Linked DNA regions of Homo sapiens: regions 2 and 3 are each reported to be linked to region 1. Evidence: microRNA targets listed by miRTarBase, many of them from high-throughput screens and not tested one by one. Region 1 holds a microRNA gene; each other region holds the end of a gene's coding sequence.

Region 1 (3,259 bases):
CATGATGATGGTGGTTTCAATAACTAATACCTAGGTATAGCTTTCATCACTGACTGTAAAAGGAAAGAAGGCAGGGTTGAAGGCAGGCCTCCCTCTCTAGCAACGCAGAGAAAGGTGGGGTTTTCCTATTTTTTGAGATGAGGACTGCTACTTAATGTCAACCAACAACTAGAACGTATTGCTGGTTTTAACCCTCATAATAATGTAACCATGTAAAAATGGGGATATACTTTAGCCTCAAACCTGGATGTGGTCCAGTAAATGAAAATAATTTAAGTATCTATATGTACGTACAAAAATTTAAACCTGCTATCTAATTTTATACCCAGTGGCTCAACCTCAAGGAGACATTAGTAGACAAACATAACCAGACATCGTGATGTCCTCTGATGAGGGCTGAAGATCCTGGATGCAAGTGCACTGGATTCCAATCCAGATCCTTTTCACCCTTCCGACGTGAATACTTGTGTGTTTTGTCAGAGCCTCTTTGTTTTGTGAGCAGGGCCATTATCAAAGCTCTACATAAGGAACTGTGAGCTGTGAGCTGAATCAAATGTTTAATACATTCTAGTGCTGGATTTAGAAGAAAAGAAACTAAGGGAGGGCAGTGAGTTGATGTAAAAAAGGGGACACTGTAGAGTGGCTGCCTGGGCTCAAATACAAGCTCTGCTTCTTGATAGCTGTGTGATCATAAGGCATTTATTAAAATTATTTTTCTTGTCTTATTAGTAAAATGAGAGTGGATATAACAGCTCCTACTTCATAAGGTTCTTGTAAAGATTCACTGAATTCCTGTGCATTAAGAGCTTAGAATTCATCACATAAACAGAATAAAAACAAAAACTACATGAACGCTTCTACACTGCTGGTGGGAGTGTAAATTAGTTCAACCATTGTGGAAGACAGTGTGGCAATTCCTCAAAGACCTAGAACCAGAAATAGCATTTGACCCAGCAATCCCATTACTGGGTATATACCCAAAGGATTATCAACTGTTCTATTATAAAGATACATGCACGAGTATGTTCACTGCAGCACTAGTCACAATGGCAAAGACATGGAATTCACCTAAATGCCCATAAATGGTAGACTGGATAAAGAAAATGTGGTACATATGCACCATGAAATACTATGCAGCCATAAAAAAAGAATGAGATCATGTCCTTTACAGGGAAATAGATGGAACTGGAGACCATTACCTTCAGTAAACTAGCACAGGACCAGAAAACCAAATATGGCATGTTCTCATGCATAAGTAAGTGGGAGCTAAATGATGAGAACACATGGACACATAGAGGGGAACAACACACACTGGGACCTATCAAAGGGTGGAAGGTGGGAGGAAGGGTAGGATCGGGAAAAATAACTAATGGATACTAGGCTTAATACCTGGGTGATAAAATAATCTGTACAACAAACCTGCATGACACATGTTTACCTATATAACAAACCTGCACATCCTGCATATGTACAACTGAATTTAAAATAAAAGTTAAAAAAAAGACCAGAAAAGACCAGAAATAATTACCAAAAAAAAAAAAAAAAGGAGCTTTAATACCTGGGAGAAAAAAAATACTTTGGTCTTTAGTAGGGTAAGGATCTGAGAAGGGAGGGAACTGATGGATGCCTAAGGGGAAAATCTTAAAAATGAAGAGGAATGTCGATAGGTGGTAAGTTAAGAGATTTGCAGGCTACGGTTGGGAATAGGTTCTTACAAAAGAAAAAACACTTTATAGGTGACAGGAACACCATGAAGACAGTGAAAGGCTTGTTACCATTTTGGTCAAGCAACTTTGGCAAAAGGGATCTGAATCTCAGAAGAAACTCAATGGGAAGTTTTTCCTCAGACTTTCAGTTTCTAGGTCTTACGTCTGATAATTAATTTAGAGAATTAACTGAGCTAGTCCAGAACAGGGAGGGTGTCAGTAGAAATGTCTGCATTCTAGGGAAAGTATTATACTGCTTGCAACTTAACACGCCCCGTGTATCCACCATGCCATGTCATATGATGTATATATCATGTGTTACTCCACTCACAGAGGTGTCAATCATATCTAATTACACATGATTGCCTCCCTCTTGAGAAGAGTACCACATGAAGAATAGAACACTTAAGGATGGCAGCCCAGCCTAATGACTGACTCATGCACCTTTCTTTTTATATTTTAAAAATATGTAATTGACAAACAAAATTTGTATATATTCAAGGTGTGCAATGTGATTTGATATGTATATACATCGCGTACTGATTACCATAGTAAAATTAACTAACACATCATTCACCGCTCTTAGTTACCATTTGTGTGTGTGTTGTGGGGGTGTGGTGAGGACACTTAAAATCTGCTCTCTTATCAAATTTCCAGTAAACAATTACAGCATTATTATCACTATGCTATACATTAGATAGCCAGAGCTTATCTATTACGTAACTCAAAGTTTGTACTCTTTGACCAACATGCATCTTTCAAAAACACATCATTGTTTTCAATCTGATTGGTGACTGGTGTTCATACAAAGGGCCTCTGTAGCATGCACTACACTGTCTTTCTTCATCCATCCTTTCCTGTGTTGTCCAATCATGGTTTGGAGTTATGACATGGCAATTTTCAGAACTATGAACCATTAAGCTTTTCTGCTAGACTCTCTTGTGCACGGAAGAAAAATCCTTGCATGTCTTATCCTGTTTATTTTTTCCATTATTATAAAGTGTTAGAAAGCAGTTTACATTCCTCAGGTCTAATAGTTAACAGGAAAATATACTCTATGTCATCTATGCTCGTCACCTGAAGATGAGTCCCTCTACCTGAGTTACATCCCTCAACTCCTGAACCACAGAATAAGCAGGGAAAACACACAAGATTCTAGGATAGGATGGTAATCACTGATGTGATGGAGAGTAGAAATGTCTGTTTCTCCTTAAATCCTAGAGCAAAAATAAAAATATTTTACTTACCAGGAATGAACTGCAAAACAGAAAATGTTCTTGGCATCTATGGATGCCATTAAACTTCTTCCAGTTTGTGAGATTTCTGAGTCTTTCCCTCGAGCGTGGTCTTTTCAAGCATTTTTGTTTGCATTTTTCTCCATTTGGAAACATGCAACTATGTGTCTTCATTTTCCTGGATGAACTAAATCTGGGACACCAAAATATAGTAACACAAATATGGTAAATGGATGTCAGAGAACTGGGATGGAAGAAAGAGGTGATTGTAAGTAGCCTAAAATGTGAAGTTGCTACCAGTCAAAAATTATGGTATCT
Region 2 (3,259 bases), not on the chromosome of region 1:
TGGATTTCTGAAGAGAATTTCAGGTTTTCTTGCAGAGGATTTTAGCTTCCTGTCTGAAGTGAAGACATAGTGAGAGCAAGTTTTGGTGAGCACATACAGGCTGAGCACTCCAATTCTATATCTCCCCACCAGGTTACCAACATCAAGAAGACACTCAAAGCCACCGCATCCTCCTCGGCTCAGGAGATGGAGCAGCAGCTGGCTGAACGGGAGTGTCCCCCTCACGCTGAGCAGAGGCAGCCCACCAAGAAGATGTCCAAAGTGAAAGGTCTGGTCTCCAGCCGCCACTAGGGCCGGCTGGGGCAGCTGGCACTCACCAGGCCTGGGTCAGGTGGGGAGGGGACACCAAGGGCCCATTTCCTCCCCTCTCTACCTGCAGTGAGTTCCAGACCTGCCCGTCCCCTCACCAGCGCCTCCCCACCCTGTTGGTACTGTTCCAGAAAAACTGTTACTCCCCCTCACCCACTCCCTCCTTCCCCAGTTGTTCCCTTCAGACTCAGGGGCTCCACCAATGCCATCCCAAAACAGGGTCAGACACTGCCCAGCTTCCCTCCAGGAGGTTCTTGTCTCTGTGTAAGGGCTTGTCTCCCTCCCAGTTTTTCTTTTGCTCCACGTCATTTTGTCAGGCTGGTTATAAGCCGGAGGCAGCTTTAACCAGCCCCCAGGGATGATTGTGAAGGAGGCCCCTCCCCTTGTGAGGAGGGGGCACTCCTCTCCAGCCCCTGGTACCACAGTCCTCACGATGGTGCAGTGATTTCTAGCCAGGCGTCAAGATGCGCTGCTTTCCCTCTCCTGCCTCATCCCTTGTTGGCAGCTCCAGTTCAGGCCGTGGAGGGACGTGATGCTGGGCTGTGTTTACTAAACCCACGGGTTTTCAGCCTCTTAAGCCCAGCTCCGATCTCCAATTAGTTGAGAGCGCTGGGTTGACTAACCTCTGGTATCTGAGCACAGACAGAGGGTGCTGTGGGTCTGCTGGGTGGCAGAAATGGTTCCTTCCGGCTTGGCGTTCTCTCCTGGCCACTCTTCCTGCTGCCTCTGACTACTCAGCCTTGTTTTCGGTGTGTAGGCCCCAGCTGCCCACTGGAACTGCCGGCTAATGCTTGCTCTCCCAAGATCTTTAACTCCTCCTGGCTGCACCTGGGTAGGGATGGTGGCATCGATGCCCCTCTGTCTGCTGAAGGACCTGTTGCTGCTTCTGTCTTTTCACCCCTCCTTGGCTGATGACCCAGAGCCCTCTGATGATGGCATTCTCCTGGCAAGAGAAAAAGACTTAACTAGACTTCTGAACTTGAACAGTTTCAGGTTATATTTTAATTTTTTTTTTTTTGTACAGGTTCTGATTCTAATACATTTCAACATGCTTTTGTCCCCCCTCGTGTCAATATTTGTTATAGACTAATCGCCGGGGATTTTTCACCTGGTTGGAGGGTGGGGGTGGGGTGGGGTGTGTGTGTGTGTGTGTGTGTGTGTGTGTGTGTGTGTGTGTGTTTGTAGGTCCTGGACTGATTAAAGTTCATTGAGGAAAAAGCACATTTTACAACAAAAAAATAAAAGTGTAGATTTAATGTATGTGACTGGGGTTTGGGGTTGCATACCTGGTGGATCTTGAGGGGCTGGGATTAGGGTGGTTCAGGAAAATGTGATGCTGTTTCCCCATGTTTAGCCATGGTCAAAAAATGGATTTCTCCTTTTTCTAAAATGTCCAGCAACTGCCTACTGTTGATCAAATGTTGAAGTATTCTTGTTTCCCTTTTAAGCCAATCCATGTGCCCACATAACATTATGCCCAAGTGGAGAGTTCACTTTAATTTCCAAAGTATGTTTCATGCAGCCCCCTGTCAGCTGCTCTGTGGAAAAGGGGTTCTGTTATGAAATAAATGTTGCACTCCCTGCATCCCATATCCTCATTGGAAATTCATTACTCAGGTGTCCAAGCATTCCTTGTTGAGGAAGCCTGTACCCACATCGATTTTACCGCCAAATCCTTTTGGGTAATATCTAGGTGGAACAAATCTTAGGGAAATTTTGGGGAAAGTATATTTCTGAAGAAGCCTAAGAGTGCTGGGCGCAGTGACTCATGCCTGTAATCCCAACACTTTGGGAGGCTGAGGTGGGAGGATCATTTGAGCCCGGGAGTTTGAGGCCAGTCCACACAACATAGTGAGATCCCATCTCTGCTACAAATAAAACCCTAAGAGAAGCTGAACACCTTTCAACCTTACAGGTTTTCCCAGCTATTCTTTCTAGACCTCAAACAGTCACTCTCAGCAAGTTTTCTTTCATTCTTGTTTTTCCCACTGGCAAGTAGACTAGGAAACATGGTTTGACTTGTATGAAGTCTGTGACCATTCTTTATTTGATTGCCCCAAGGCCCTAAGGGTCCTCTCCATGATTCACCTTCCTTAAAAATAATGATGGCGACAATAATAACTTGTCTCTAAAGTGCTTTACAAAGTGTGTTTGCATACAATAAGTCATTCAGTCCCTTCCACCCAAACAGCCTTCTGAGGTTGGTAAGGGTATTCAGCCATCTTCGCTTTGCATATGAGAAGACAATCTCAAAGATTTGAAGTGTCCCAGTGGTAACTGGCAGAAGGAGAACTCTTAGATCTCCTGACTTGCACATCCTGTCATCTGCTGTGTTACATTCTCATCTAGAGTCTGCTCTCCACACTTGATCCTTGCTACCCCTCTACCTGCTGCTGTTCCTCTGAGAGTTCATCTTGCCTTTATTTTGAGGGAGGGAGGGGCAAGCCCAGTGTTAGTGTTGATTTTGCCCTCAAGGACCCTGGCGGGGAAGCAGTAGTGTTCCCATTGTAGAGGCCAGAAAAGCTGCCCAGTGACACAGCCAGGATCAGTCATGGAGCCATGATAGGCCAGAGCCTGAGCTCCCAGCCACTGAGGAGGGGTGGCAGAGGATTGTTTGGCCAGGTCTGTGTGGGCTGAAGGCTTGGTGACCAGGGACGACATGATCATCTGCAAGACCAATGCTATCACTGCCCTGAGGATGTTCTTCCCCCGAAAGTTTGCCTCCAATAGCACAGGCACCTGCGTCTCAGATGGTGGTGACATCTGAGTACTTGGACTTCATCAGCTGCCTGTAGGAGGTGAGGTAGCAGGAGGTGAGGGCAATACTCCCTTCAGCTTCAGCAGGTGAAAAGTGTGGTTCTCAATGAAGTTGAGCTAGTGTGTGCCAGGTCTCCTTCTACAGTGGGTACGCGTCATACAGGATCCCATCAAAGCGACCACCTGGCAGGGG
Region 3 (3,259 bases), not on the chromosome of region 1:
CCAGTTGTCTTTTTTGTGGACTATGCTTCCAACTGCTTATATATGGAAGAAATTGAAGGCTCAGTGACTGTTCGAGATTATATTCAGTCCACTATGGAGACTGAAAAAACTCCCCAGGGTCTCTCCAACTTAGCCAAGACAATTGGGCAGGTTTTGGCTCGAATGCACGATGAAGACCTCATTCATGGTGATCTCACCACCTCCAACATGCTCCTGAAACCCCCCCTGGAACAGCTGAACATTGTGCTCATAGACTTTGGGCTGAGTTTCATTTCAGCACTTCCAGAGGATAAGGGAGTAGACCTCTATGTCCTGGAGAAGGCCTTCCTCAGTACCCATCCCAACACTGAAACTGTGTTTGAAGCCTTTCTGAAGAGCTACTCCACCTCCTCCAAAAAGGCCAGGCCAGTGCTAAAAAAATTAGATGAAGTGCGCCTGAGAGGAAGAAAGAGGTCCATGGTTGGGTAGAAGAATGTGTATGACAACCACACACAGTGAAGCTCTTTTTTCAAAGTAAATTTGAAGAAATGCTACAAGTATGAGATGAGATCTAAGTAAAGGTGTTAAGATATTTTTAAGTGGTATGTGATCGTGTCATTATCATCTGCACTTCACTCAAGAGCTTACTATGTGTCTAAGTCATGTTCTAGGCAGAATTGGGTATTTAAAGTAAATTGAGGACAGGCTTCTCCCAGATTGTGACATGTATATCTCAGATACATGGGTGTGGCATTGAACCACATAATGAGAACATTATTCTCTTTTTAGTCCTTGTGAGACAAGGATGAAGTCTCAGTTGCTGATACTCGCTGAGCTTACTGGCCCTCTAACCCAGTGTTTTTTTTTGTTGTTGTTGTGTACATGTTATATTTATTTTGAAACCAGTTTAATGGGATACAACCAGCATTTTAAAAAATGAAATAGAATACAGCATGGAAAATATCAGTGTATTGTTTTATGAAACTTTCACGTGTATATATAGACCAAGGATATGTGCTGAGTTTTGATGTCAAATATATTTCTCTTTCAGGGTCATGATCAAAAAATGAAAAGTCTGCTTAACTCCAATTTCTCTTTTAAAAAAGCAGACTTACAGCTTTCAGGCAACTGAAATTCATGTTAACATGTTTTTATTTTTATTGCTTTGTATTTTTGTGGTTACCTTCTAAGACAAGTGATTGATCTAAAGTTCCTTTTAAGTTTATACCGCTAAACAAACTGAGTTGATTTCTATCACAGGCAGTAAGTAGGTAGAGCAAAAATGGTGAAGTGACTTGTGAAGACTGAAGTTTGATGAAGTCTGGTTTAAGGCACAGGTAAACTGAGTGTGGATGCAAAAGTACCAGGAGCTAGCTTTTAACCTTGCCCAGCCTCAGTTTCTTTTCTTAGAAGAAGCTATGTTTGGGTGGGAAGGGAAGAGAGGGATAAGAAAATACCTTTCTTCCTTGTAAACTCCAATCAACAAACATATTTTGAGTGCCTTTTGTGTTCCTTGGCACCCTGTTGGGTATTGGGTACTTGGCACCCTGTTGGGTATTGGGTACAATGGTGAGCCAGACAGACACAGCGCCTGTCCTTTTGTAAGAATATTTATTTTTATAAAAAAGTATAAAGTATACAGTGGGATGTTTTGATATACATTATGAAATGATTGCTACAGCTGAGCTAATTAACACCCATCACCTCACATAGTTACTGTCTTGTTTCTTAATATGGACATTTGCAGCTATGAATTTCCCTCTGCACACTGTTGTCATCACACACTCTCAGTTTTGGTATTTTGTGTTTTTGTTTTCATTCATCTCAAAGTATTTTCTAATTTCCCTTGTGATTTCTTCTTTGACCCCTTGATTGTTTAGAAATCTGTTAATTTCCACACATTTGTAAATGTTCCAATTTTTCTTTTGTTATTGCCAGCTTCATTCCATTGTGTTCAGAGATGATACAGTCAGTGCCTGTTCTTATGAAGCAAACATTCTATAATAGTAGGACCAGTACCCTGTCTGTTTCATTCACCACAGTCAGCATGCCCCAAGTGCCCAGCATGGGGCGGATGGCCAGGAATGAGTGAAAACTTCCCTTCCTGGGTAGTTGTGACTAGTAGAGAGGAAAAATAATATAATTGCCTGCTTACTGCATGCCAGGCATTGGGCTGGGAATTTTTATATTGGATCTAAAATAACTCTTAAGTTAGGCATTATCCCCATTTTATAGATGGAGAAACTGGCCCCAAAAGGTGGGAACTTGTCCAAGACGTCACAGGTAGCAAGAGGTACTTTTACCTGGCTCCAAATCTGTGTTCTTTCCACTGACAAATGAGATATGGGATATGGTGCATCTTTACAGTACTATAATAAGTATTGGCGTATAACATTATTTTCAAGGAACTCCAAGGGCCACAGGAGCTGACAGGTTTTTCAATTAATATTCCCAACATGAATGAGATGCCTCATTCCTCAGTTTCCTCACGTGTACTATAAGGCTAGTACCTGCTTTGTTGGGGTATGGTTGGCTCGTGTGCATTAAGTCAACAAATCCCTAGTTGATAGGGTTTGGCTGTGTCCCCATCCAAATCTCATCTTGAATTGTTCCCGTAATCCCCACGTGACATGGGAGGGACCCAGTGGGAGGTAATTTAATCCTCGGGGCGGCTACCTCCGTGCTGTTCTCGTGATAGCGAGTGAGTTCTCACGAGATCTGATGGTTTTATAAGGGGCTTTTCCCTCTTGTTCGGCACTTCCTGCTGCCACGTGGAGAAGGGTGTGTTTGTTTCCCCATCTGCCATGATTATAAGTTTTCTGAGGCATCCCCAGCCATGCTGAACTGTGAGTTATTAAACTTTTCCTTTATAAATTACCCGGTCTCGGGTATGTCTTTATCAGCAGTGTGAGAACGGACTAATACACTAGTACTCACTATGCGCCGGGCACTGGAGATCTAATAGAGGGGAACATGAAGCTTACTTTCCTGGGGAACATAAGACAGTTTCAGACAGTGATGAGTGAAGATGTGAAGGAAAACCAGAAACACAGGAGATGAAGAGAGTATATCCCAGGCAGGCTGTGGCGTGCGAAGTTGGCGAAGAAGAAACATCCCCGACAGCAAGGCTGGTGTGGCCGGCATTAGTGAGCAAGGGGGAGGAGCAGAACATGAGATGGGAGAGGCGGGGCCGGATCCTGCAGGGCCCTGTTACAAGGTTGGGTTTTGTTCTTAATGGGACTCAGGGTTTTTAACAGGGTGATACCTGATTGTTTTGAAA

Evidence for each region. Region 1 holds the annotated microRNA hsa-miR-514b-3p (AUUGACACCUCUGUGAGUGGA, at 2,029-2,049, opposite strand). A microRNA usually pairs through its seed, bases 2 to 8, with sites in the 3' UTR of a target mRNA and lowers its output. Matches are read on the target gene's strand: a 7mer-m8 pairs with bases 2 to 8, a 7mer-A1 pairs with bases 2 to 7 and ends in A, and an 8mer does both.
Region 2: miRTarBase lists COPS7B as a target of hsa-miR-514b-3p. Seed matches in the 3' UTR shown: 7mer-m8 at 1,376-1,382.
Region 3: miRTarBase lists TP53RK as a target of hsa-miR-514b-3p. Seed matches in the 3' UTR shown: 7mer-A1 at 1,008-1,014.

Annotation. Positions count from the first base shown.
Region 1 is chrX:147,248,133-147,251,391 of GRCh38, forward strand. It overlaps MIR514B (microRNA 514b), which reads right to left and starts at 2,098; the gene lies at 2,019-2,098. The region is part of intron 2 of LOC105373347 (periphilin-1); the gene reads left to right.
Region 2 is chr2:231,807,355-231,810,613 of GRCh38, forward strand. It overlaps COPS7B (COP9 signalosome subunit 7B), which reads left to right. Exons shown (of 7, transcript NM_022730.4): 7 at 133-1,899. The coding sequence ends at 291. It also overlaps the pseudogene GAMTP1. Among named protein-coding and RNA genes, the nearest start is that of COPS7B, 23 kb to the left of the region's middle.
Region 3 is chr20:46,683,962-46,687,220 of GRCh38, reverse strand. TP53RK (TP53 regulating kinase) reads left to right here. Exons shown (of 2, transcript NM_033550.4): 2 at 1-2,856. The coding sequence ends at 468. It also overlaps a transcript of SLC13A3 not described here. Among named protein-coding and RNA genes, the nearest start is that of TP53RK-DT, 3.7 kb to the left of the region's middle.